Regions from separate parts of the Homo sapiens genome. Here regions 1, 2, 4 and 5 are each linked to region 3. Evidence: fine-mapped expression QTL. A gene starts in region 3. Each other region holds a variant in brackets. All regions are shown on one strand. Distances are from middle to middle. Region 1 overlaps SIPA1L3 (signal induced proliferation associated 1 like 3). Region 2 overlaps FAM98C (family with sequence similarity 98 member C). Region 3 holds the start of SPINT2 (serine peptidase inhibitor, Kunitz type 2). Region 4 overlaps YIF1B (Yip1 interacting factor homolog B, membrane trafficking protein). Region 5 holds the start of DPF1 (double PHD fingers 1).

Region 1 (5,125 bases), 87 kb after region 3:
AATAATGGTTGGAAACTTCTTAAATCTGATGAAAACCTTACACATCCAAGAAGCTCAACAAACACCAAGTAGGAAAAATACAAAGAGATTCACACCTAGAAAAGGAGTTGAAAGTTAAATGCTGGCCGGGCGCGGTGGCTCACGCCTGTAATTCCAGCACTTTGGGAGGCCAAGGCGGGCAGATAACCTGAGCTCAGAAGTTCGAGACCAGCCTGACCAACATGGAGAAACTACATCTCTACTAAAATACAAAAAAATTAGCCAGGTGTGGTGGCGCATCCATATAATCCCAGTTACTTGGGAGGCTGAAGCAGGAGAATCGCTTGAACCCGGGAGGCGGAGGTCGCGGTGAGCCGAGATCACGCCATTATGCCGTTGCACTCCAACCTGGGCAAAAAGAGTGAAATTGTCTCAAAAAAAAAAAAAAAAAGAAAAGAAAAAAAGAAAAATGCTAAGATAAACATCTTGAAAGCATCAAGAAAAAGATGATGCATCGCATATAGAGGAGCATCAATACAATTAGCAGGCCTATAATCCCAGCACTTTGGGAGGCCAAGACGGGAAGATCACTCAAGCCCAGGAGTTGGAAACCAGCCTGGGAAACACAGTGAGACCCCACTTCTATAAAAAAGAAAAAAAAACACAATTAATTGCTGACTTCTCATTTAAAAGAATGAAATAAAATGTAACTTTTAAAGTGCTGAAAGAAAACAACTGTTAACCAGGAATTCTATACCCAGCAAAACCATCCTTGAAAAATGAAGGCAACAGAAAGATGTTCCTATATAAACAGAGATGGAGAGAATTTGTTGCTAGCACACCTGCCTGATACAAAATAATTTTAAAACTCCTCGGGTTAATCCCAGCACTTTGAGAAGCCAAGGCAGGTGGATCGCCTGTCAGGAGAGCTCGCAGCCTGGCCAATATGGTGAAACCCCATCTCTACTAAAAATACAAAAATTAACTGAGTGGTGGCGGGCACCTGTAATCTCAGCTACTCAGGAGGCTGAGGCAGGAGAACTGCTTAAACCCAGGAGGCAGAGGTTGCAGTGAGCTGAGATTGCGCCACTGCACTCTAGCCTGGGTGACAGAGTGAGACTCCATCTAAAAAAAAAGAAAAAAAAAGTCCTCAGGCTGAAAGAAATGACTCTAGACAATGACCTGAGTCAGTAGACAGAAATGAATAGCCCAAGATGGCAAACTGTGGTTTAAAATAAGATTCTATAAAAGTATATGCTTTCTTATTTCTTCTCTTAACTTCCTTAAAGACATAAGACTGTATAAGGCAATAATGACAATACTATACTGCTGGGTTAAAACACATATGGATGTTTATGATAAACAGAGCACAAAAAAGGGAGAAGGAAATAGGACAATATTGGAGAAAAGTTTTATATTTTATTGGAATTTAGTATTAACCTGAATTGCAGTGATAGACGCACATTATAATAACTAAAAAGATAGTTACACAAGAGTAGAATCCAAATGTTATACTAAATTATATATATTTTTTATTTTTAACTTTTGAGACAGAGTCTTACTCTGTCACTTAGGCTGGAGGGCAGTGGTGCAACCTTGGCCCACTGCAACCTCCGCCTCCCTGGCTCAAGCGATTCTCCTGCCTCAGCCTCCTGAGTAGCTGGGATTACGGGTGCATGCCACCACGCCCAGCTAATTTTTGTATTTTTAGTAGAGACAGGGTTTTGCCATGCTGGCCAGGCTGGTCTCGAACTCCTGACTTCAGGTGATCTGCCCGCCTGGGCCTCCCAAAGTGCTGGGATTTTACAGGTGTAAGCCACCACATCCGGCCTGAAACTGTATTTATTTACTACAGTATAAGGCAGTAAGGAAGAACAGAGGAGCAAGAAAGATAGTAGACATACAGAAACAATAGCAAAATGGCTAATGCAAATCCAACCATTAGCAGTAATAATTACATTTAACGTGAATGGTCTGAACACTCCCATCAAAAGGCAGGGATTGTCCGACTGGATTGAAACAGCAACTATGTAATGCTTTCCACAATTTAGCAACATCTATCAATGGAGCAAAGAGTAGGCATTGGTGAGGAGATGTCCAGGGAACTACTGAAGCATGTAACACCAAGAATGGTCAGGAATGCTTTCCCCAGGAGACAAGAGCATCAGAACTGAGAACTGAAGGATGACTGGCTTCAGCTTAACATTTGGCCTGGCTGGGTGTGGTAGCTCATGCCTGTAATCCCGGCACTTTGGGAGGCCAAGACGGGCAGATCATGAGGTCAGGAGATCGAGACCATCCTGGCTAACACAGTGAAACCCTGTCTCTACTAAAAATACAAAAAAATTAGCTGGGCATGGTGGTGGGCGCCTGTAGTCCCAGCTACTCGGGAGGCTGAAGCAGGAGAATGGCATGAATCTGGGAGGCGGAGGTTGCAGTGAGCCGAGATCGCACCATTGCACTCCAGCCTGGGCGACAGAGTGAGACTCCATCTCAAAAACAAAAACAAGACATTTGGCCTCCCAGAAATCCATGCAATAGAAAAGCCTGCACAAGGCCGGGCATGGTGGCTCATGCTGTAATCCCAGCACTCTGGGAGGCTTAGGTGGGAGAACTGCTGGAGCCCAGGAGTTGCTGTAGAGACTCTATCTAGGGACGGGGTCTTGCTATGTTGCCCAGGCTGGTCTTGAACTCCGGGGCTCAAATGATCCTCCCACCCCAGCCTCCCAAAGTGCTAGGATTACAGTTGTGAGGCACCATGCCCAGCCCTAGAGACCCTGCCTCCACAAAAAAATAAAAATAGCCAGGAATAATAGCACATGCCCATAGTCCCATAGTCTTAGCTACAAAACACACACACACACACACACACACACACACACACACACACAC[ACAC/C]ACACACCAAAAGCCTGCACAAGCACACACAGGCAGGTATGAGGACGGTCTCTGTAGTACTGTTTATAATCAGGAAAAGTTGGAAATGGCCAGGCTGGAGTGCAGTGGTGTGATCTCGGCTCGCTGCAACCTCTGCGCCTCCGGGGTTCAAGCGATTCTTGTGCCTCAGCCTCCTGAGTAGCTGGGATTATAGGCATTCACCACCATGCCTGGATAATTTTTGTATTTTTAGTAGAGACGGGGTTTCACCATGTTGGCTAGGCTGGTCTTGAACTTCTGGCCTCAAGTGATCCACCTGCCTCGACCTCCCAAGGTGCTGGGATCACAGGCATGAGCCACTGCGCCCTGCCGCAAGCATATCCTTATGATCAAAAACTATGCAGCCAGTGCAAAGGTCAATCTCTGTTTATGTATGAGGACAGATGGTCTGAACTATAGTAAATGGAAACGATGCATGGTATAAAACATGATTCTGTGTATTTAAGGGAAAAAATATATAGATAGATATACACACATATGTATAGAGAAAAAAAGAAATAAAGTAGAATTTTATACTTTTTTTTGTCCTTTTTTCCCCCTTTTTGTGGGGAATGGGGTCTCACTAAATTGCCCAGGCAGGTCTCGAACTCCTGTGCTCAAGCTATCCTCCTGCCTCTGCCTCTCTGAGAGCTGGGATTACAGGCATGAGTCACTGCGCCTGGCAAAATAAACTAGAATTTTTTTTTTTTTTTTTGAGATGGAGTCTTGCTCTGTCACCCAGGCTGGAGTGCAGTGGCGCAGTCTCAGCTCACTGCAACCTCCGCTTCCCAGGTTCACGTCATTCTCCTGCCTCAGCCTCCTGAGTAGCTGGGACTACAGGCGCCCACCACCACACCTGGCTAGTTTTTTCTATTTTTGGTAGAGATGGGGTTTCACCGTGTTAGCCAGGGTGGTCTCGATCTCCTGACCTCATGATCTGCCCACCTTGGCCTCCCAAAGTGCTAGGATTACAGGAGTGAGCCACCGCGCCCGGCCCAGCTAAACTAGAATTTTTAAAAAGTCACTGTATTTCTTGCAAGGTAAGGGTTAAGTGGCATGTTTTTTGTTTGTTTGTTTGTTTTTTTGTTGTTTGTTTGTTTTTTTGAGACGGAGTTTCACTCTTGTCGCCCAGGCTGGAGTGCAATGGCATGATCTTGGCTCACTGCAACCTCCGCCTCCCAGGTTCAAGCGATTCTCCTGCCTCAGCCTCTCGAGTAGCTGGGATTACAGGCATGTGCCACCACACCCAGCTAATTTTGTATTTTTAGTAGAGATGGGGTTTCTCCATATTGGTCAGGCTGGTCTTGAACTGCTGACCTCAGGTGATCCACCTGCCTTGACCTCCCAAAGTGCTGGGATTACAGGTGTAAGCCTCCATGCCTGGCCTAAGTGGTATGTTTGAAAGAACTGGGTTGGTAAAGGTTTAGAGAAAAATCTCTGGAGGAGTGTACACTAATGGATTCTCTCTGAAAGTAGTAATGATGGGGAACATGTACGGAATAAAAGTCAAATTAAGCTGGGCATAGTGGCATATGCCTGTAGTCCCAGCTACTTGGGACGCTGAGGTGGGAGAATCGCTTGAACCCAGGAGTTTGAGGCTGCAGTGAGGCATGACTGCACCATTGGATTCCAGCTTGGGTGACAGAGTCCCCATCACTCAAAAAAAACAAAAAACAAGCAAATAAAAAAAACAAAAAAAAAACCAACCCTAAAAAAAGTCTAATTAAACTACATAAATGGCACAGGGTAAAAAGTAAGTGGCCAGCCGGGTGCAGTGGCTTACGCCTGTAATCCCAATACTTTGGGAGGCTGAGGCGAATGGATCACCCGAGGTCAGGAGTTTGAGACCAGCCTGGCCAACATGGCGAAACCCCATCTGTACTTGAAAAAAAAAAAAAATTAGCCAAGTGTGACGGTGTGCACCTGTAATCCCAGCTACTCAGGAGGCTCAAGTGATTCTCCTGCCTCAACCTCCTAAGTAGATGGGATTACAGGTACCCACCATTATGCCTGGCTAATTTTTGTATTTTTTAGTAGAGACGGGGTTTCATCATGTTGGTCAGGCTGGTCTTGAACTTCTGACCTCATGATCCGCCCGCCTCGGCCTCCCAAAGTGCTGGGATTACAGGCGTGAGCCACAGCGCCCAGCCTGAACGTTCTTTCTTTCTGGAGCGCCAGTGTGCCCATGCGTCCTCCTGAAGTCTCAATATCAACTTGAAAACTGGGGCAGCAT
Region 2 (5,125 bases), 140 kb before region 3:
AGATTCTGTCTCAAAAACAACAACAACAACAACAACAACAACAACAACAACAACAACAACAACAAACCTGGATAATCTCCAAACCGGGTAGATTATGTTCAAACAGAATCATCCTCCAAATCTCTAGACTCCAGATCATTCAAACTCTGAATAACTTCCAAATTCAAGAGATCCTCAAACTCTGGCTAGTGGATCAATCTCTCAACCTATAACCCGAGACTAATTCACAAACCTTGGATTACTTCCCACATTCATTTATTCATTCATGAAATATTTACTGAGCACCTCCTGTGTGCCAGGTAATCCTAGGCCCTGGGGTTACAGCAGGAATACAGCAGACAACTCTTGCCCATAGAATTTGCATTTTAGTAACTCTAAATTTTACCTAAATCTAATATCTGAGGTGATTATCTAAACTTGAGATAATCTCCAAGTTTCCTTTATTTATTTTGTTAAGAGATGGGTCTTGCTCTATTACCCAGGCTGGAGTGCCGTGGTACGATCATGGTTCATTGCAGCCTCCAATCCTGAGCTCAAGCGATCCTCCCACCTTGGCCTCCCAACCTCCCACCTTGGCGTCTCAAAGTGCTGGGATTACTGGCATGAGCCACTGTACCCCACCCACATTCCTTTAATTCCAGTTAAATCTCTAGCCTTGAGAATTTCAAAACCTGGGTAGCTTCCACACTTCCACTCCCCAGCTGCCCTGCCAATCCACAGCCCTCCCTCTCCTAGGATGGGTAACCTTTTCTCCTTTCTCTTCCCAGCTCTGGGGTGTCACCAAGCAAGGCTACCGCTGTCGGGGTGAGTGGGGTGTCAGTGAGTGGGAGGGAAGCCTTGGCCCGCAGGCTGGAAGAATGGATGACACAGATCGGACCCCTGCCGCTGCCTTCCCCCAGAGTGCGGGCTGTGTTGCCACAAACACTGCAGAGACCAGGTGAAGGTAGAATGTAAGAAGAGGCCAGGGGCCAAGGGCGATGCAGGACCCCCCGGAGCTCCTGTCCCATCCACACCAGCTCCCCATGCCAGCTGTGGTAAGACCTAGAGCACACCGGTGCTGGGAAGGGGCCTGGGGGAAAGGGGTTGAGTCCAAGGTCAAGAAGAGGTCCTTCCCATCAGACCCACATCCCTTCCATCCACCCACAAACAGGCTCCGAGGAAAATCACTCCTACACGCTATCCCTGGAGCCTGAGACTGGGTGCCAGCTTCGCCATGCCTGGACCCAGACTGAATCCCCACACCCTTCCTGGGAAACAGATACGGTGAGGAGAAACCGCCCCTACCCCCAAGTGGATACAGGGGACACAGGCCATTGGCGTGGGGAAGACTGGACAGATTTGGAGACCCATAGAAAGTACAAATATGCAGAAGTCCTTGACTGCTGGGGTAGGAGGGTATGGATACTGGTTACTTTTTAATATTGATAGAAAAATAGGCTGGGTGTGGTGGCTCATGCTTGTAATCCCAGGACTTCGGGGAGGCTGAGGTGGGAGGATCACTTGAGGTCAGAAGTTCGAGATCAGCCTGGCCAACGTGATAAAACCCTATCTCTACTAAAAATACAAAAATTAGCCAAGTGTGATGGCGGGTGCCTGTAGTCCCAGCTACACGGGAGGCTGAGGCAGGAGAATCACTTGAGCCCGGGAGGCAGAGGCTGTAGTGAGCTGAGATTGTGCCACTGCACACCAGCCTAGGTGACAGAGCAAGACCCTGTCTCAAAAAAAAAAAAAAAAGAAAAATAGAAGTTTCAACATGTTGGGGGTAGGGTGGGGACAATAACCACTAGGAGAACAGAAAAAAGGATTCTAGCCAATAAGATAGCAAGAATAAGGCCAAATATATCAGGAGCTACTGTACGGGTTAATGGAGTAAACGCCACTATTTGAGGGCAGAGACTCTCAGATTGGGTTACAAAAAGGATTCCACAGGGGACGTTCATTCATCCACTTACCAGTCTGGGCAGGGAAGTGTTCCTGGCAGTGAAGCGTCTCCTAGACATCATATGCTCCCCACATCATCTGTCATCTTTCTTCCTCCCTTCCTCCTTCCAGGTCCCCTGCCCGGTGATGGACCCACCATCAACTGCATCCTCCAAGCTGGATTCCTAGACATCTCTTGGTCTCCTCTCTTCCTCACTCCCTTCCCCCAGTCAGTCCTGAGTCCTGCCGTCAGACTCTGGCAGGGCTCCCAGAGGTAGGCCTCCAGAGGCATCCGCCTTCCCATCCACACTGCCTTTAGTGGTACGTCCGTCATCTTTTTCCCTGGAAGTGACTTTCCTCTTTTGCATCCTGGTGGATGCTAATCCTGCTCCCTTTCCCTGCACTTAGTATCTGTGCGGCTGTGTGTTGGATACATTTAGACTCAGGCCTCATTCTACCAACTCCCTACATCTCCATTTCTTTTTTTTTTTGAGACAGAGTCTTGCTCTGTCACCCAGGCTGGAGTGCAATGATGCAATCTCAGCTCACTGCAACTTCCGCCTCCTGGGTTCAAGTGATTCTTCTGCCTCAGCCTCCCAAGTAGCTGGGATTACAGGCACGCGCCACCATGCCCGGCTAATTTTTGTATTTTTAGTAGAGACGGGGTTTCCCCATGTTGGCCAAGATGGTCTCAAACTCCTGACCTCATGATCCACCAGCCTCAGCCTCCCAAAGTGCTGGGAATACAGGCGTGAGCCACCACGCCCAGCTCCTGTTTTTCTGCATAGAATGTGCTCCCTCTGACAGCCTATACTTTTTCCCTCTTTATCTCGTTGAACGTCTGTCTTTCCTCAACAGGAGCATCAACTCCAGGAGAACAGGGATTTCTATCAATGTCATTCACTGCTGCATCCCCAGTGCCTAGAACAGGGCTGGCAGGTGGTAGGCGCCTGACAGATGCTTGTCTGATGCCTGAATGTCTCCTTACCCATGCCCACGGC[A/G]CAGGATAGATGTGCTATAGGGCAAAGAACTTTGAGGGTCGAGCAGCAGGGGCCCATTCAGTCCCAGGGAGCAGAGACCCCCCCAACCCCTTCACAAACCCCAACACCCCTGACTTGGCCCCCACAGAGAGAGGTCCTACAGCTGTCATAAATTAAATTTATTCTCTGGAGAACATGGTTCTTGGTATTGACGTGAATGGGAGCAGGGCATTTGGGGACTCAGGAATAGGAGATGGGGGGCTTGGGTGCCAAATACCAAGGAAAGCCTTAAACGGACTCCCCAGAGATTACCGATAGCATTAGCATCTCATGGAGGACCCCCCGCCCCCGACCACCAGTCCCCCTTTACTTCTTCTTCTTCTTCTTGCGACCCCAACACTGGGGGCCTCCATCCTCTCTTCGGCTCCTCCAGGTGGGCATGGGAGGCTCCAGCTCATTTGGGCGGCCCCCCCGGTCTGGAACGTTGCCCATAAGCACCTGAGAGTTTATGAGATTTGAGTTGCAGAGAAAAAAAGTATCTTGGACAAGGGGGCCAGAGAGCGAAGGGAACAGCATGAGGCTGAAGAAGAAACAGCAGATGTTGACTATTTGAGTACAGTGGCTGGGGGAGGGGGGACTGAACTGGTGGAAGATACTAGCATGAGCTTTCTTTTTTCTTTTCTTTTTTTTGAGACGGAGTCTCACTCTGTTGCCCAGGCTGGAGTGCAGTGGTGTGATCTCAGCTCACTGCAACCTCCACCTACCGGGTTCAAGAGATTCTCCTGCCTCAGCCTCCCAAGTAGCTGGGACTACAGGTGCGTGCCACCACGCCTGGCTAATTTTTTATATTTTTAGTAGAGACAGGGTTTCACCGTGTTAGCCAGGATGGTCTCGATCTCTTGACCTTGTGATCCGCCCACCTTGGCCTCCCAAAGTGCTGGGATTACAAGCGTGAGCCACTGCACCCAGCCTACTTTTCTTTTCTTTTTTTTTTTTTGAGACAGAGTCGCCTAGGCTCTGTCGCCCAGGCTGGAGCTCAGTGGCGAGAACCCGGCTCACTGCAACCTCTGCTCCTGGGCTCAAGTGATCCACCCACCTCGGGCTCAGTTTTTTTCTTAACTTAAATTTTGCCTCAATAGTTGCTGTGTTAGACTTTATTCCCTAATACTCATTTTACATAAGACTACTTACAGAGGCATGCGGCTAGATACCTAATCACTAAAACAGAGGGTATTTCTGTTTTTTGTTTGTTTGTTTGTTTGAGACAGAGTCTTGCTCTGTCGCCCAGGCTGGAGTGCAGTGGTGCCATCTTGGCTCACTGCAAGCTCCGCCTCCTGGGTTCACGCCATTCTCCTGCCTCAGCCTCCTGAGTAGCTGGGACTACAGGTGTCTGCCACCACGCCCGGCTAATTTTTTTTTTGTATTTTTAGTAGAGATGGGGTTTCACCGTGTTAGCCAGGATGGTCTCGATCTCCTAACCTCGTGATCCGCCTGCCTCGGCCTCCCAAAGTGCTGGGATTACAGGCGTGAGCCACTGTGCCTGGCCTATTTCTGTCTTTGTTTTTTTTTTTTAAATGGTTAAAAGGGTGCGGTTTCTCACACCTGTAATCCCAGCACTTTAGGAGGCCACGGCGGGTAGATCACAAGGTCAGGAGTTCAAGACCAGCCTGACCAATATGGTGAAACCCCGTCACTACTAAAGATACAAAAATTAGCCGGACATGGTGGTGGGTGCCTGTAATCCTAGCTACTCGGTAGGCTGAGGCAGGAGAATCGCTTGAACCCGGGAGGTGGAGGTTGCAGTGAGCCAAGATCAAGCCACTGCATTGCAGCCTGGGTGACAGAGCAAGACTCTGTCTTGAAAAAAAAAAAGGTTAAAAAACAACAAATAGGTAGTGTTTGGTGATAGGGAAGGATTTTAAGCCCAAGCTGGAGAAGTAGCCAGGGACTCAGTAAATAGCTAGACTTTGTTTTCAGATCATTAGGGAGCCACGGAAGCATTCTGAGCTGGGGAGTCCACAGTCAGTTTTTGTGTGAGCGAGGTCCTTCTAGCTGCCATGTCTAGTGGGTGGATTAGAGGTGGTAAGTCTGAAACTTGGACTGGAGCAGAGGCTGAAAGGCCAATCTGAAGGCCAAGGATGCCAGGGCCCTTCCCTACCCCAGATGCCCACCTTGTTGATGGCACAGCAGGTCCCTCTGCGGACAGCCACGCTGGTGGCTGGGAC
Region 3 (5,125 bases):
TTTTCATACAGAATAAATTCCTTGACCAACCCCCATCCTCCCTCCCTCACACATTCTCTGTTCACTCCTCCCTCACCACCACACTCATCCAGCAGCACCTGAGCCACTGCATGGAGCTTCAGCAACACCACACTCCCAGTGGATGACTCGCTTCCGGAGAAAACAGAAGCAATCAGGAAGGAGCGAGGAAAAAAAAGTCAAAACTGCCTTCTGCCTCCGATTAAGCTGTTCAAGCTTTCAAACAAACAGAACTTACGATGAGTGAGGGCATGAGTTCACCCAGTCAGACACTAGTACTTCTGAAAGGTCAGTAGGTCCAGTCGGCAGCAGCAGTCAGGTAGGCCACTCTGAACAGAGAAGGCCTCTGCAGTGAGACCTGGCTTTGTCAATTACTACTACCGAGTGACCTCGGGCAAGGCAAGTAACTTCACCACCGCACCCGGCTGTTTCAAAGGTTAAATGGCACATCCCAGCTCAGAGTAAGCACCAGAGGTAGCAAGAGGCCATGTCCCAGCTCAGAGTAAGCACCAGAGGTAGCAAGAGGCCAGGTAACTGGGAGGTACATCCTAACGTAATTACTTAAACTGAAAAAGTCCAGCAGAGCTGCCAAATTCTGGTTCGAATTGCAAGAATGATCAACGTCTGCATTCCTGACTCCCAGTCACCTACAGCTGAGCCTCTCCCCACCAATTCACTTTTTTCTCCTGCCTAGGGCACAGAGAAATTAACCAGTCCCCAGAAGTTACCACAGGTGATGACTTGGTACACACCTAGCCTGCTCTTTTTTTTTTTTTTGAGACTGAGTCTTGCTGTGTCGCCCAGGCTGCTGTGCAGTGGCTTGATCTCAGCTCACTACAGCCTCCGCCTCTGGGCTTCAAGCGATTCTCCTGCCTCAGCCTCCCGAGTAGCCGGGACTACAGGTGTGCACCACCATGCCCAGCTAATTTTTGTATTTTTGGTAGAGACGGGGTTTCATCATGTTGCCTAGGGTGGTGTTGAACTCCTGGCCTCCAGTGATCTGCCCGCCTTGGCCTCCCAAAGTTCTAGGATTACAGGCATGAGCCACATCACCCGGCCTTCTTTTTTTTTTTTTGAGATGGGAGTTTCACTCTTGTTGCCCAAGCTGGAATGCAGTGGCGCGATCTTGGCTCACTGCAACATCCGCCTCCCGGGTTCAAGCACCAGCACCTGTCTATAAAGCCCTAGGCCATCTGGCTGCAGCCAACCTCTCCCACCTCCCATCCTCCTCCAGTCCTCCCCTCCTTCACGCCTGCTCCAGCCAGGCTGGCTCTGTCTTTTCCCTGAACCCAACCAAGCTTGTTCCAGCTTCAAGGCCTTTGTACTCTATTGCCTGCAACTGGACACTGGTCCCCCAGGTCTCCGTGTGGCTACTGCCTCATTCTTCATGTTAGAGCTCAGATGTCACCCTCCTCACGGAGACGTCCCCCGACCACCTGAGCTAAAGCCGCCCCCAACATCTTACGTCACCCTGTTGGTGTACTTCACCTGGTTCATTTAATTCTCAGTAACTTAATCTCATGGCAAGTGCTTTTTAAACCTTCACTAGCTCTGCCTCTCCCACTGGAATATTAGCTCTGTGAATGCAGGAACCCAGCTAGTCTGAGTTAACTGTTATAACCAGCGCCAGTGCCTGACACGTAGCAGGGCCTCAGTAAGTTTTGCTGAATCAATGAATTCTTGCTTTCAAGAGAGCTCTTTTCAAAACACGCTGGTGCTTGTCTGAAGCAGTTAAGGTTATAACAACACTTGTTCAAAGAGACCTTTCAGACCACACTTCCTTAAGAGTGTAGAAGTTTAAATCACCTTATTCACCACCGACTTCTAAGGGCCAATCCAAAGACCCCAACACCAGCTGCTCAACGCCAATACTCTCTCGAGCCTTAGCAGAGCTTCCTCTTCCCCAAAGCTTGTTTCCTTTCTTGCTCCCTCCTTCTCGGGCACCTACTTTACTGCAACTCAACTACAAAAACTTCAGGGGAGGCTCTTGTCCAATCTCCAAAGAGGCAGGGGTGAGATGGGCTTCTTCCGAGTCTAAAACGGCCACCAGGTCACCCAACCCAACCCCCACCATCTCACAGGCCTGGCCTCTCCCTGAGCTTTGGCCATGGAACTTTCCACCGCCAGGAGAAGGCTGGTCTTCAATTCGGCTCCTCACCCCGTTCTTGCCACAGGAAGGGGCAGTGCCACGCCTTCTTGGTCAATACCCCTTGACTCTTCCTCCACCCGAAGGAAACTCTCCTAACCCTCGCTCCTCCGCCCGTCTTCGCTGTCGAAGGCTCCCAAACCTCATTTCAAGGCTCAATCCTCCAGGGCTGGTTCCACCACACCCGCTGAACGCCATCAAGTAGCCCCCAGTTTCCTCCCCCGCCAGTTCTCCCTGCTCAGACCCCCGTTGACCCCCGAGCCTCTGCCCCCTGCGCCCCGCCTCCAGCCTACCCGCCCGGCCCTCACCGTGGATGCTGCGTTCTCGGTCGGCCGCCAGGACCCCAGAGAGGAGCAGCGATCCCAGCAGGGCGAGAAACGCCCGGCTCCGCCTCAGCCCGCACAGCTGCGCCATGGCCAGCTCAGCCGAGACGCGCAGGCGACGCCACCAGCCGTTGGGGTCTCGCGATCAGGTGCGGGAAGCCCCTCAACGCGCACGCGCAATGGAGCGCCTCGCGTTCAGGTGCCGACGCTCCGGGAGGGTCCGCCAGGTGCCAAAGCCCCCGGAAGTCGCCTTTCCGGACCTTCAGTGTGGGGACGCCCGGCCTTCTCGGCGCGCGATGCCTGGGTCTGCTCCTCACTCGCGCCCTCGCCGCCTGCGACACTCAACGGCCCTCAGCGCGTTCAGAGCCGCGCTACACCTCCCAACGCGCGGAGGTCGCCAGAGCCAATGGCGAACGCCTATTGGAAGCGGCTCCCGAAGGTGGCCGGGCAGGCAGGGGGCGGGGCGCACCTGGCTAGGCAGGGCGAGCTGGGCGCAGGCGCAAAGGGCAGGCACCTGCGCGGCCGCTCCCCGGCCCTGGGCGCACCTGGGCCCGCCCCTGGTGCCGGGGAAGAGGCGGGGCTTGCGCGGGCCTCGCCCCCAACAGAACCTGGCGGGGCGGGGCGGGGCGTCTGCCCGCTGAGCACCTGCCACCCTTCCCTTGGGCTTGGTGACGACGTCGGAGGAGGGCCTTCGCTCTAGGACTGGCCTCAGGGTGGGAGGAGGGGGCGGCAGACACGCGTTTCTTGGAAGCCTGTGGTTTTCTGCCCGCCTCGCCGCAGCTTTCCTGTGAATTCCTTCCTGAATTTCAAAGTTCACTGGGCTCATGCTCCAGGGCTTAATGCTGGGGACCCAGCGGTGGCCATGCCAGACTGGTCCCTGAGTCACCAAACAGGAACGGCCCAGAGTAGTGATAGCGGAAGCTTAGCACAAAGTGATGAAAGCTGTGATGGGGAAGGCCAAGCTTAGGGATCAGAGGCTGGGTCGCTAGAAAACCAGGGCATGATGGGAGCCCAGACAGCTTTCCCATCCAGCCTGAGAGAGGGCCAAGGAGGGCTTCCTGGAGGAGGTGATAGGCCCATGCAAAAACAGCCCCGAGCCCTGGCTCCAAGGTTCTCAGGACAGATATGGAGACAAATACTTAGCACAGGCAGCATCAGAATTGAGAGGAAGGAAGCCCCTGGGGAAACCCAGAGAAGACACCTGACCAAGCCTGGGAGTCAAAGAGGGCTTCCTGGAAGAGGAGTTACGTGAACAGACTCTAGAAAGGGGAATGGAGTGGGGCAGGCACACGAGTAGAGGATAGCCAACAAGGTAATCAACATAAATGCATTATTATTGAAAACACTTTTAGATTATTTCTTTTTTTTTTTTTTTTTGAGATGGAAGTTTTGCTCTTGTTGCCCAGGCTGGAGTGCAATGGAGTGATCTTGGCTCACTGCAGCCTTGACCTCCTGGGCTCAAGGGATCCTCCCACCTCAGCCTCCCAAGTAGCTGGGACTACAGATGTGAGCCACCACATCCAGCTAATTTTTAAATTTTTTGTGGAGACAGGGGACTTGCTATGTTGCCCAGGCTGGTCTCAAACTCCTGGCTTCAAGGGATCCTCCTGTCTCATCCTTCCAAAAGTGTTGTATTACAGGCGTGAACCACCACACCTGGCCTGAAAACACTTTGACAGTGCTATACAGAAAAGGAATCAGGGGCTGGGATGGAAAATAACAAGAGATCTTTTGAATGGGGTGGCGGAGGAAGGGCTTTGTGAGGGGTGGCTTTGATAATGAACTCTGAAGGATGATAAAGGCCAAGGGACAAACATTCCAAGAATCAGGAATGGCACATGCGGAGGCCTTCAGGCAGGAAAGAGAATAGTGTGTTCAGGAGCCAGGGCCACTCCCACTCTTCAGCCTCCCTCCTAGCATAATAATACATGAAAAGCCGTAACTGAGTTATCAAAATGGTATTTACCTTAAACAATGGAAGTCTAACCTTGCAATGAGATCATGGGACTCAAGGTGGAATCTGAATGTGAGGCCAAAGGTCTCCCCCAGCACTTGAATCTCCCACTGCCACTCAGGCCTACTAAACCTAGGCTTGAGCATGAAAACAGAGAAGTATGTGCTGAGCCGTCAAGGCTTGGAAGAAGGTATAGGCCTCTTCTTTCTTTATTTTATTTTATTTTGAGACAGAGTTTCACCTGTTGCCCAGGCTGGAGTGCAATGCTGTGATCTCAGCTCACTGCAACCTCCACCTCCTGGATTCAAGCAATTCTCCTGCCTCAGCCTCCTGAGTAGCTGGGATTACAGGCACCACCCGCCACCACGCCCAGCTAATTTTTGTATTTTTTGTAGAGATGGAGTTTCACCATGTTGGCCAGGCTGGTCTCGAACTTCTGACCTCACGATCCGCCCACCTTGACCTCCCAAAGTGCTGGGATTACAGGCGTGAGCCACTGCATCTGTCCAGTTTTGAACTTTAAACACAAAAACTCAAAAGGAGGGCTGAGCGCAGTGGCTCATGCCTGTAATCCCAGCACTTTGGGAGGCCAAGGCGGGTGGATCACGAGGTCAGCAGATCAAGACCATCTTGGCTAACACGGTGAAAAAATCAAAAAGATTAGCCGGGCGTGGTGGCGGGAGC
Region 4 (5,000 bases), 45 kb before region 3:
GCCACCATGCCCTGCTATTTTATATTTTGTAGAGATGGGGTTTCACTATGTTGGCCAGGCTGGTCTTGAACTGAGTTCAGGTGATCTGCCTGTCTCAGCCTCGCAAAGTGCTGGGATTATAGACGTGAGACACCATGCCCAGCCTCTTACCACGTTTTTTGTTTTGTTTTGTTTTGTTTTTTTGAGATGGAGTCTCGCTCTGTAGCCCAGGCTGGAGTGCAGTGGCGCGATCTTGGCTCACTGCAACCTCCACCTCCCCGGTCCCGGTTCAAGCAATTCTCCTGCCTCAGCCTCCGGAGTAGCTGGGATTACAGGCACGCACCACCATGCCCAGCTCATTTTTGTATTTTTAGTAGAGATGGGGTTTCACCATGTTGGCCAGGCTGGTCTTGAATTTCTGACCTGGTGATCCACCTGCCTTGGCCTCCCAAAATGCTGGGATTACAGGCGTAAGCCACTGCGCCTGGCCTCTTCCCACTTCTTAACACACCTCCTCTGAGCACCCCTCAGCAAGTCCTGTCCCTCCTAGCTCTGAAACTGATCCAGAAATAACCCATTCCTCTTTTACACCCCCAGTCCTGTCTGCCATGGTCTCCCACCTGGATCACCCCAGCAGCCTCTCTCCCTTCCCTGCCCACCCCTCATCTGTTCCCCACGTGAGGCCACAGGGACCTTTTAAAAACTTTTGAAACCTGGCTCTCATACTATGACTTTGGGCAAAGGCCTGAGCCTCTTTAGGGCTTGCTTTTCTCATATGTAAAATGGGGATGATGATAGCATTGGCAGCTGGCAGAAACAGGGTGGTTGTGAAGATGAGATGAGTTCATCCACAGGATTATTGTAATATTTATCAGGCACAGCAGGGCTGGACTCCTGCTCTGCCACTCACTCAGTTTGGCCCTTTGCACAAGTCATTTTAGCTGTCTGGGCCTTGGTTTCCACACCTGTAAATTGGGAGTGGTCATTTATTCTGTTTTTTGTTTTTTGTTTTTTTTTTTTGAGACAGGGTCTCACTGTGTTGCCCAGGCTGGAGTGCAGTGGTGCAGTCTCGGCTCACTGCAACCTTTGTCTCCCAGGCTGAAGCGATCCTCCCACCTTGGCCTCCCGAGTAGCTGGGACCATAGGCGTGAACCACCACACCTAGCTAATCTTTCTATATTTTGTAGAGATGGGGTCTCGCCATGTTGCCCAGGCTGCCTTTATTCATTGATCAGGTTTTTATCAAGTGCCTACTCTAACCCTGTGCAAGGGGCTGGGGACTCAGCTGTGAACGAGATCAAGATCCCCACCTTGGGGGACTCACAGTTGAGTGGGGGAGACAGTGAACAAAATAAGACAGCCAGCATGTCAGCTAGTGCCGAGTTCTATGGATATCAGTGAAGCAGGGCAGGGGGTGGGGAGTGCCACCAAGGGAGGTACGGTTGTAGACAGGATGGCTGGGGAAGGCCTCACTGAACAAAGCCCTTGAGGAGGAGAGGAGGGAGCTCTGAGGATGTTGGGGGAAGAGCGTTCCAAGCAGAGGCACAGCTGGTGCAGCGGCCTTGAGGCAGGCACCTTCCTGGTGCATTCAGTGAGCATTGGGAGGCGCAGGTGGCTGGAGCCAAGTCATTGAGGGGGAGCATAGGAGATATGGACAGCGGCCTTGTGTAAAAGGCTTGGTACAGGATTTTGTGCCCAATAGCCCCCCCTTCCTCTCGCACATAGTAGCTTTTGAGATAATCATCATCATTGATATCTGGATGGATGGATGATAAGTGGATGGGTGGGTGGGTGAATGGATGGTTAGATGGATGGATGATGATGGATGGATGGATGATAGATGGGTGGATAGATGAATGAGTTGGTGGATGGATAGATAGCTTGGTGAGTGGATGGATGGATGGATAGATGGAAAGATAAATGCATCAGTGGATGGATAGTTGGCTAGATAGGTGGGTGGATGGGTGGATGGATGGGTGGGTGGGTGGATGGATGAATGGGTAGGTGGATGGATGGATGGGTGGGTGGGTGGGTGGATGCATCATTAGATGGATAGTTGGCTAGATGGGTGGTGGATGGATGGATGGTTGGATAGGTGGATGGATGGATGGATGGATGGGTGGATGGATGAATGGATGGATTGATGGGTGGGTGGGTAGATGGATAGATGGATAGATGGGTGGGTGGATGGATGAATGGATGGATTGATGGGTGGGAGGGTGGATGGATGGATGGGTGGATGGATGAATGGATGGACAGATGAATGCATCAGTGGATGGATAGTTGGCTAGATGGGTGGGTGGATGGATGGCTGGATGGATGGATGGATGAATGGATGGATGGATGGATGGTTAGATGGATAGATGGATGGATGGGTGGGTGAGTGGGAGGGTGGGTAGATGGATAGGTGGATGGATGGGTGGGTAGATGAATGGATGCATAGATGAATGTATCAGTGGATGGATAGTTGGCTAGATGGGTGGGTTGGTGGATGAATGGCAGAGCTTGCACCTGCCAGTCCATCTGACATCAAAGCCAGTGTCTCTAATGGTGACACCACCCTCCTCTGCAGCAGGAGGCAGAGCTGTGGGATGAATGAGGTTCGCCAGGTCTCCCTTACCTATCCTGGGTCCCCAGCTCCTTCTCACTCTCTTCCCTTGCAGCCTCGAAGCGGAGGATCCCTGTGTCCCAGCCGGGCATGGCCGACCCCCACCAGCTTTTCGATGACACAAGTTCAGCCCAGAGCCGGGGCTATGGGGCCCAGCGGGCACCTGGTGGCCT[G/A]AGTTATCCTGCAGCCTCTCCCACGCCCCATGCAGCCTTCCTGGCTGACCCGGTGTCCAACATGGCCATGGCCTATGGGAGCAGCCTGGCCGCGCAGGGCAAGGAGCTGGTGGATAAGAACGTGAGTGGGCGGGGCTGGTGGGAGTGGGGGGATGCACGGGGCCACAGGGCTTCAGACTTGAGCTCTGCCTCCCCAGATCGACCGCTTCATCCCCATCACCAAGCTCAAGTATTACTTTGCTGTGGACACCATGTATGTGGGCAGAAAGCTGGGCCTGCTGTTCTTCCCCTACCTACACCAGGTCAGCACCCCCAGGGGAATGTGGGTCTGCAGTGGGCCTGTGGGGGGCTCAGGGGTGGGGGCAGGTGCATGGTGGAGCCGGGAGATTCGCCTCGAGGGAGGAGGGCCTGTAGCAGGGTGGGAGGGGCCTGGCTCTGAGGGTCCTGCCCGTCTCCCCATCCCCGCAGGACTGGGAAGTGCAGTACCAACAGGACACCCCGGTGGCCCCCCGCTTTGACGTCAATGCCCCGGACCTCTACATTCCAGGTTTCACCCTCCCCCTACCCTGCACCCTCCTCTCTCTTCCGGGCCTATATGGAGCGGGTGTGTGGGTGCCTGGAGGCCCAGGGCAGTTCTTCCTCTGGTGACCAGTGTCTGTGTGTCTGTCTCCCACAGCAATGGCTTTCATCACCTACGTTTTGGTGGCTGGTCTTGCGCTGGGGACCCAGGATAGGTAAGGGAGGCCTGGGGCAGGCCGAATAAGGTGGGGTTTGGGAGGCCCATGGTTGGTCAGGAAGGTCTCAGTTCCAAGGTCTCAGTTCCCCTTTCAGGACAGCCCCACTTTGCTCCCAGTTGGCCCAAGATACAGCCCTCAGGGTCACTGTCAGCATCACCCTCGCCTCTTCCCTGTCCTTCCTACCCACATGCATTGCGTCACCATCCCCTGTGCTGGGTGACCCTTCTCCATCCACCCTTCCTCTTGGCCTCTACTACCAGACCCATCCTCATCCTCCCTCTGTCATCACCAGCTCCCCACTGCACCCCTACTCCAGCAGCAGCCAGGATGGTCCTGTCTGAGGTGCGGGCCTGGCCCACCCTGCCCCGCCCTGCTATCCATGGCTCCCAATCAAGCCCCAGCTCCTCAGCCTGGCACTGCCCCTCCCGCTGCACGCTCCGGTCTATTCCTTTCCTTGGGAGGGCTGGCACTGTCTCCTGGGGCCTTGTCACATCAACTCCCCTCTGCCCAGGAGCGTGTTCCCCTCCACTACTGCCGAGTACCTGCACATCCCTGCTGGCTCCATTCCAGTATCACCTCCTCCGGGAAGCCTTCCTGCCCCCCAGGCTAGATCAGGCCCCTCCTCTTGCTCACATCGCCCTGTTCTTTTCCTTTATGGCACTGAACACATCTGTCATTAACTAACTGGTGAGGCCCTGGGGATGTGGCAGAGGCCAAGGGCTTTGTCCCTGACCAGCTCCTTCCTGCAGGCTTCAGCTCGGTGTCCCCTCTCCTGGGAAGCCCTCTCTGACACCTGTCTCCTGACTGTCAGCACAGCCCCCTGTGACTCCAGCCCTGCCTGCTCTGGGTGTCACTGTCTAGGGATGGGTCTGCCATCCTCTCTGGATGGGATTTCCGTGGGAATAGGATAGCGCGCACATCCATCTTGGTCACTGCCAGGTGTCCAGCCCTACCCAACACAGAGCTGTCCCCAGATGGGTGCTGGGGGTGGGGGGTCTGAACCAGCCAACCAAGTGGCGGGGCTTTGTGCCTGCAGGTTCTCCCCAGACCTCCTGGGGCTGCAAGCGAGCTCAGCCCTGGCCTGGCTGACCCTGGAGGTGCTGGCCATCCTGCTCAGCCTCTATCTGGTCACTGTCAACACCGACCTCACCACCATCGACCTGGTGGCCTTCTTGGGCTACAAATATGTCGGGTGAGTACCCCCGCCCTTCACGCCAGCCCCAGCCCTTGGGCCTTGTCCTCACACAGCCTCCTCTCCCTCCCCCAGGATGATTGGCGGGGTCCTCATGGGCCTGCTCTTCGGGAAGATTGGCTACTACCTGGTGCTGGGCTGGTGCTGCGTAGCCATCTTTGTGTTCATGGTGAGCTGGGCTCGGGGCTGGTGAGGCTGAGGCACAGGTGCCCCGGAGGCATCCAGGCATCCAAGCAGAGGATGTCAGGTGTGGGGTTCAGACCAGAGACACATTGCTGAACTGAGGAGCCCTGGAGTGGCTGCCCGGCCTG
Region 5 (5,125 bases), 42 kb after region 3:
CAGACTGGAGCCATCGCACCTGGCCGCATTATTCTTTCTTTCTTATTATTTATTTATTTATTTTTGAGAGGGAGTCTCACTCTTGTTGCCCAGGCTGGAGTGCAATGGCACGATCTCAGCTCACTGCAACCTCCACCTCCTGAGTTCAAGTGATTCTCCTGCCTCAGCCTCCTGAGTGGGGGAGTATAAGCATGCGCCACCATGCCCGGCTAATTTTGTATTTTTAGTAGAGACTACTACCATGTTGGCCAGGCTGGTCTCGAACTCCCATCCTCAGGTGATCCACCTGCCTGGGCCTCCCAAAGTGCCGGGATTACAGGTGTGAGCCACTGCGCCTGGCCTGCCAGTCACCTCTTAAAATGCTTTACCTATATTTACTCATTTAATCCTCACAACACTCCAGTGAGGCATCATCCTCTTTTTACAGATGAGGAAACTGAGGCCCAGAAAGGTTAAGTCATTTGCCAAGGTCACATGGCCACCAAGTGGCAGAGCTAGGATTTGAACCCTGGAGGTGTGACTACTGTTTCTAACCTGCACTGCTGCTGTCAGGCCTGCAGAAGGCGTTGAGCAGGGCGGGGTGACCGTGAGCGTGGCTGCTGGGAGAGACAGCCCCGGGTGGGGTCTCTGGAGCCAGGAGGGACTTGGGTGGGGGGCGGTGAGGGGGTGTCTGCTGGAAGCATGTTGGTGAGAAGTCTGTGTGGGCACCTGGGAGGTGTCTCTGCGTCTCTTAGTATTGCAGTGTGTGTGCGTGTGGCTGTGTGAGTCCGTGCGAAGGTGTGTGAGTAGGAGTGTGTGGGAGGCTGTGAGTATCCGCGTGAATGTGTGTGTAAACTGCCATGCGTGGGCGTGTGCGAGTCCAGGTGTGCATGTGGTTGTGTGCACGCGAGAGCAGGATATGTGGACGAGTGAGGGCGGGTGAGTGACGGTGCGTGCCCCGGGCCCCTCCTCCGCGCCGTCCCGTCCCCGCGGGGTCCCGGGGGCCCCCTGGCCTGGGACTACCACTCCCAGCATGGCCCGGGCGGGCCCGCCCCGTCGCCGCGATTGGCCGTGGCCCTCGTGCTCCCGCCCCCCGGGAATGAATGGATGGGCGGCCTCAGCGCCCGCCCGACCGCTGGGAGGACCGACCCGGCGGGGACCTGCTGGGGGCAGGACCCGGGGAGCAAGATGGCCACTGTCATCCCTGGCCCCCTGAGGTGGTGCGGGCCGGCGGGAGGCGGAGAGGAAGCGCGGGCGGGTCTACGCGGGCCTGTGTGTGTGTGGCGACCGGGGGTGGGGCCGAAGGGGTGTCTGGGGGGCTGTCACCGAGTGCGGGGCTGCGCGGGGGTGCGAGAGTGTGTGACTGTGGGTCTCTGACAAGAATGGTGTCGGATGCACCGCTCCCTGGCGGGGTGGAGGGCGTGGGGGGCCTCCAGATTCTTTTTGGGGAAGGGAGACATCATCCCTTCCCTGCAACCCTCGGGTCTGGGAGAGACTGAAATGACCCGGGGGTGCGGGGGCCTTGGCAACTGGAGTGAAGTCCACACTACCTTTGTCTTGGGATGTGGAGTGTGTGTGTGTATCACTTATTTGTGTTCTGGTTTTTTTAAGAATTTTTGGGGGATAGGTGTGTGGACATGTGTCTGTTTCCTTTTATTCTGCACTAGATATCTTTGGATATTTGGGTCTCCCAGTGTGTGTCCGTGTCCTTTGGAACTATATGTCATTTGTCTTGTGTTCTGTGTTTTTGGGTATGTAGGGCTGCGTGTATTTGTGTGTAAATTTTTGTGTGACTATGGGTGGATTTGGCTGTTTCTGTGTTTTATATGTGTGTGTGTCTGTGTGGATGTGTGATATTTTAGATACTGGTTGCGCATCGTGCATCTTTGTAAATGTGTGTGTGTACCTGTGTGAATCTGTGTGATTTCTTTGTGTTGTGTGTCTGGATATTGTGTGTGTGGTTTGTGTTGTGTCTTTGGATACATGGGTAAGTGCCTAGGGG[C/G]GCAAGTGGTTTCTGTAGTTCCTGTCTTTTGACATGCTTGTGTCTTTGGATGCATGAGGGGGTGTATGTGTGTGTGGTGTGATGTTTCCATGTTGTGTGTCTTTGTGTGGGTGATGTGTTTCTGGTGTGTGTCTGTGGATATGTGATGTGTCTTTGTGCATGGTTATTTGTGTGATTTGTCTCCACACTATGGAACTTGGGATATTTGTCTTTTTCAGTAGATATTTATGTGTGCACGTGTGTGAGGTTTGTCTGTTTCTCCTTTGTGAGTATTGGGATTTGTCTCTCTTTGTGTGTGAATCCCGTGTGACTGTGTGTGATTTGTGTTGTGTGTCTGCATGTGTTCAGGTAGGGATACGTCCCGGTGTGTTTTTGTTTGTTTCTGTATCGTGTTTCTACTCATGAGCTGGGGGCCTGTTTGAGTCCCAGTTTGGGGGCCCCTGGGCCCTGTCCCCTTCCCCCAGCCTGGGTCCCGGAGTGGGAGGAGGGGAGAGGTGAGGCTGGAGGGGTCGGCCCACCCCTCCCGAGCCTGGGCGGCCCGGCAGCCGGGGAAGGGGTGCTGGGCGACCCTGTGCGCCTGCCCTTGCTGACAGCCGCCCGCCCGTTCGCCGCCCCTCTAGCCTAGGCGAGGACTTCTACCGCGAGGCCATCGAGCACTGCCGCAGTTACAACGCGCGCCTGTGCGCCGAGCGCAGCCTGCGACTGCCCTTCCTCGACTCGCAGACCGGCGTGGCCCAGAACAACTGCTACATCTGGATGGAGAAGACCCACCGCGGGCCGGGTACCGCCGGGAGGGCTGGCGCAGGGCGGGGCGGGGCCAGGCCGCCCCACCGCCGCCGCCCTCTCACCCCCCTCTCTCTCCAGGTTTGGCCCCGGGACAGATTTACACGTACCCCGCCCGCTGTTGGAGGAAGAAACGGAGACTCAACATCCTGGAGGACCCCAGACTCAGGCCCTGCGAGTACAAGATCGGTGGGTGCAGCCGCTGGGGCCCCCATCGGTGTCCCAGCGCCTGCTGTGTGTCCTAGCACTCGTCCATCACCTTTATCGCCTTCTAGCAAGTGTCTGCCTGGCTGGCTGTGTGTCTGTCTGCCCATGTGCGTCCCGGGTGTTTCCCAGAGATTCCACAGTTTCTCTGAGTCACTGAGTGGCGACTGCATCTCCTCCTACATGGGCCCAGGTGCCCAGTTGTTGTTATTTATTTATTTATTTATTTATTTATTTATTTTTGAGACAGAGTTTCACCCAGGCTGGCGTGCAATGGCGTGATCCCCCAACCTCCACCTAGCGGGGAGTTGAACCTTGAACCCGCAACTTCCGCCTAGCAGGTTCAAGCGATTCTGCCTCAGCCTTCCGAGTAGCTGGGATTACAGGCATGCGCCACCATGCCCGGCTGATTTTGTATTTTTAGTAGAAACGGGGTTTCACCATGTTGGTCAGGCTGGTCTGGAACTCCTGACCTCAGGTGATCTGGCCACCTCGGCCTCCCAAAGTGCTGGGATTACAGGTGTGAGCCACCGCGCCTGGCCTGTTGTTTTTTAAATAGAGGCAGGGTGTTACTATGTTGCCCAGTCTGGTCTTGAACTCCTGAGCTCAAGGGATCCTCCTGTCTCAGCCCTCCAAAGTGCAGGGATTATAGGCGTGAACCACCATGCCCCACCAAGGGTCCCAGTGGTATTGGAGGGCATAGTGATATCTGTTAGGTGTGTGTGGGTGTATGGAGTTGCTGACTGTGTCCCTTCCCCTGGGAACTGGGATGGATCAGTCTGCCTGTATTTTTTTTTTTTTTGAGATGGAGTCTGGCTCTGTCACCCAGGCTGGAGTACAGTGGCGCAATCTCAGCTCACTGCAACCTCCGCCTAGTGGGTTCAAGCGATTCTCCTGTCTCAGCCTCCTGAGTAGCTGGGATTACAGATGCACACTGACATGCCCGGCTAATTTTTTTGTATTTTTAGTAGAGACAGGGTTTCACCATGTTGGCCAGGCTGGTCTCGAACTCCTGACCTCAGGTGATCCACCTGCCTTGGCCTCCCAGAGTGCTGGGATTACAGGCTTGAGTCACCATGCCCGGCCATCTGCCTGTATTTTTTTCTGTGGGTGCCTGAGGGTGTCTGCCTCTGTATCTCCCCAAGGGCGTCTGGATGTCTCAGTGTCTGGTTGGAGCTCTTTCCTCTCTTAGGTGTATCTTCCCAGGTGTCTCCAAGTGTCTTAGAAGGCTTGTGTCTTGTGTATGTCTGGTCTGTCAGGGTGTCCGGCTCCTCCCGAGTGTGTCTGGGTGTGTTAGGCGGTGCGGCCGTCTCTTTCTGTGGGTGTGTGGGTGCCTCGGAGTGTCTGGGAGAATCTTCCTGATGGTGTCTGGCGTATCAGGTGTATTTCTGCACGTGTGTGCCAGTCCATCAGAGGATCTGGACTTACCCTTGAATGTGTTTAGGAATATCGGGATCCTCGGGGTCAGTTTCTCTTCCTGAGTCCGAGGGTCTGTGTGTACCCAGGAGCGTGGCAGTGCCCACCTGGCTGTGTCTCTTCCTGTCTGTCTCCTGTGTGTGTTTGTGTGTATCTAGCTGAGTGATTCTCCCTGAGTATGTCGGTATCTCCCCGCTATGTGTCCAAGCATCTCATCTGGCTGTGTCTTCCCCAGGGTCTAGGTGTATCTGGAGGGCTAATTGTTTCTTTCTTTTTTTCTTTTTTCTTTTTCTTTTTCTTTTTTTTTTTTGAGACGGAGTCTTGCTCTGTCGCCCAGGCTGGAGTGCAGTGGCGCGATCTCACTGCAAGCTCCGCCTCCTGGGTTCACGCCATTCTCCTGCCTCAGCCTCCCGAGTAGCTGGGACTACAGGCGCCTGCCACTACGCCCAGCTAATTTTTTGTATTTTTAGTAGAGACGGGGTTTCACCGTGTTAGCCAGGATGGTCTCGATCTCCTGACCTCATGATCTGCCCGCCTCGGCCTCCCAAAGTGCTGGGATTACAGGCGTGAGCCACCGCACCCGGCCTCTTTCTTTCTTTCTCTTTCTTTCTTTCTTTCTCTTTCTTTCTCTCTCTCTCTTTTTCTTTTCTTTCCTTCCTTCCTTTCTTTCTTTCTTTCCTTCCTTCTTTCTTTCTTTCTCTCTCTTTCTTTTTCTTTTCTTTCCCTCCTTCCTTCCTTCTT

Evidence for each region. PIP is the estimated chance that this variant, and not a neighbour inherited with it, causes the effect.
Region 1: its variant is fine-mapped to the expression of SPINT2 in whole blood (INTERVAL, PIP above 0.99).
Region 2: its variant is fine-mapped to the expression of SPINT2 in whole blood (TOPMed, PIP above 0.99).
Region 4: its variant is fine-mapped to the expression of SPINT2 in whole blood (TOPMed, PIP above 0.99).
Region 5: its variant is fine-mapped to the expression of SPINT2 in whole blood (TOPMed, PIP 0.96).

What each region holds. Positions count from the first base shown.
Region 1 is chr19:38,175,843-38,180,967 of GRCh38, reverse strand. All of the region lies in intron 15 of SIPA1L3 (signal induced proliferation associated 1 like 3), which reads right to left. Among named protein-coding and RNA genes, the nearest start is that of SNORD152, 15 kb to the right of the region's middle. RefSeq lists an enhancer at 4,977-5,125. The variant ACAC/C (reference allele first, on the strand shown) is at 2,872.
Region 2 is chr19:38,407,024-38,412,148 of GRCh38, reverse strand. FAM98C (family with sequence similarity 98 member C) reads right to left here. Exons shown (of 8, transcript NM_174905.4): 7 at 5,072-5,125; 8 at 3,065-3,398. The coding sequence ends at 3,267. It overlaps RASGRP4 (RAS guanyl releasing protein 4), which reads left to right. Exons shown (of 17, transcript NM_170604.3): 14 at 768-804; 15 at 900-1,034; 16 at 1,151-1,263; 17 at 2,053-3,091. The coding sequence ends at 2,109. Among named protein-coding and RNA genes, the nearest start is that of FAM98C, 6.5 kb to the right of the region's middle. The variant A/G (reference allele first, on the strand shown) is at 2,922.
Region 3 is chr19:38,262,346-38,267,470 of GRCh38, reverse strand. SPINT2 (serine peptidase inhibitor, Kunitz type 2) reads right to left here and starts at 2,898. Exons shown (of 7, transcript NM_021102.4): 1 at 2,473-2,898. The coding sequence starts at 2,578. RefSeq lists a silencer at 2,874-3,193 and enhancers at 3,350-4,267, 4,408-5,125.
Region 4 is chr19:38,307,286-38,312,285 of GRCh38, reverse strand. It overlaps YIF1B (Yip1 interacting factor homolog B, membrane trafficking protein), which reads left to right. Exons shown (of 8, transcript NM_001039672.3): 2 at 2,643-2,881; 3 at 2,958-3,062; 4 at 3,229-3,307; 5 at 3,437-3,494; 6 at 4,534-4,689; 7 at 4,765-4,858. Among named protein-coding and RNA genes, the nearest start is that of C19orf33, 5.5 kb to the right of the region's middle. RefSeq lists a silencer at 4,573-4,742. The variant G/A (reference allele first, on the strand shown) is at 2,761.
Region 5 is chr19:38,220,185-38,225,309 of GRCh38, reverse strand. It overlaps DPF1 (double PHD fingers 1), which reads left to right and starts at 1,088. Exons shown (of 12, transcript NM_001135155.3): 1 at 1,088-1,196; 2 at 2,602-2,762; 3 at 2,846-2,953. The coding sequence starts at 1,168. RefSeq lists a silencer at 754-1,323. The variant C/G (reference allele first, on the strand shown) is at 1,982.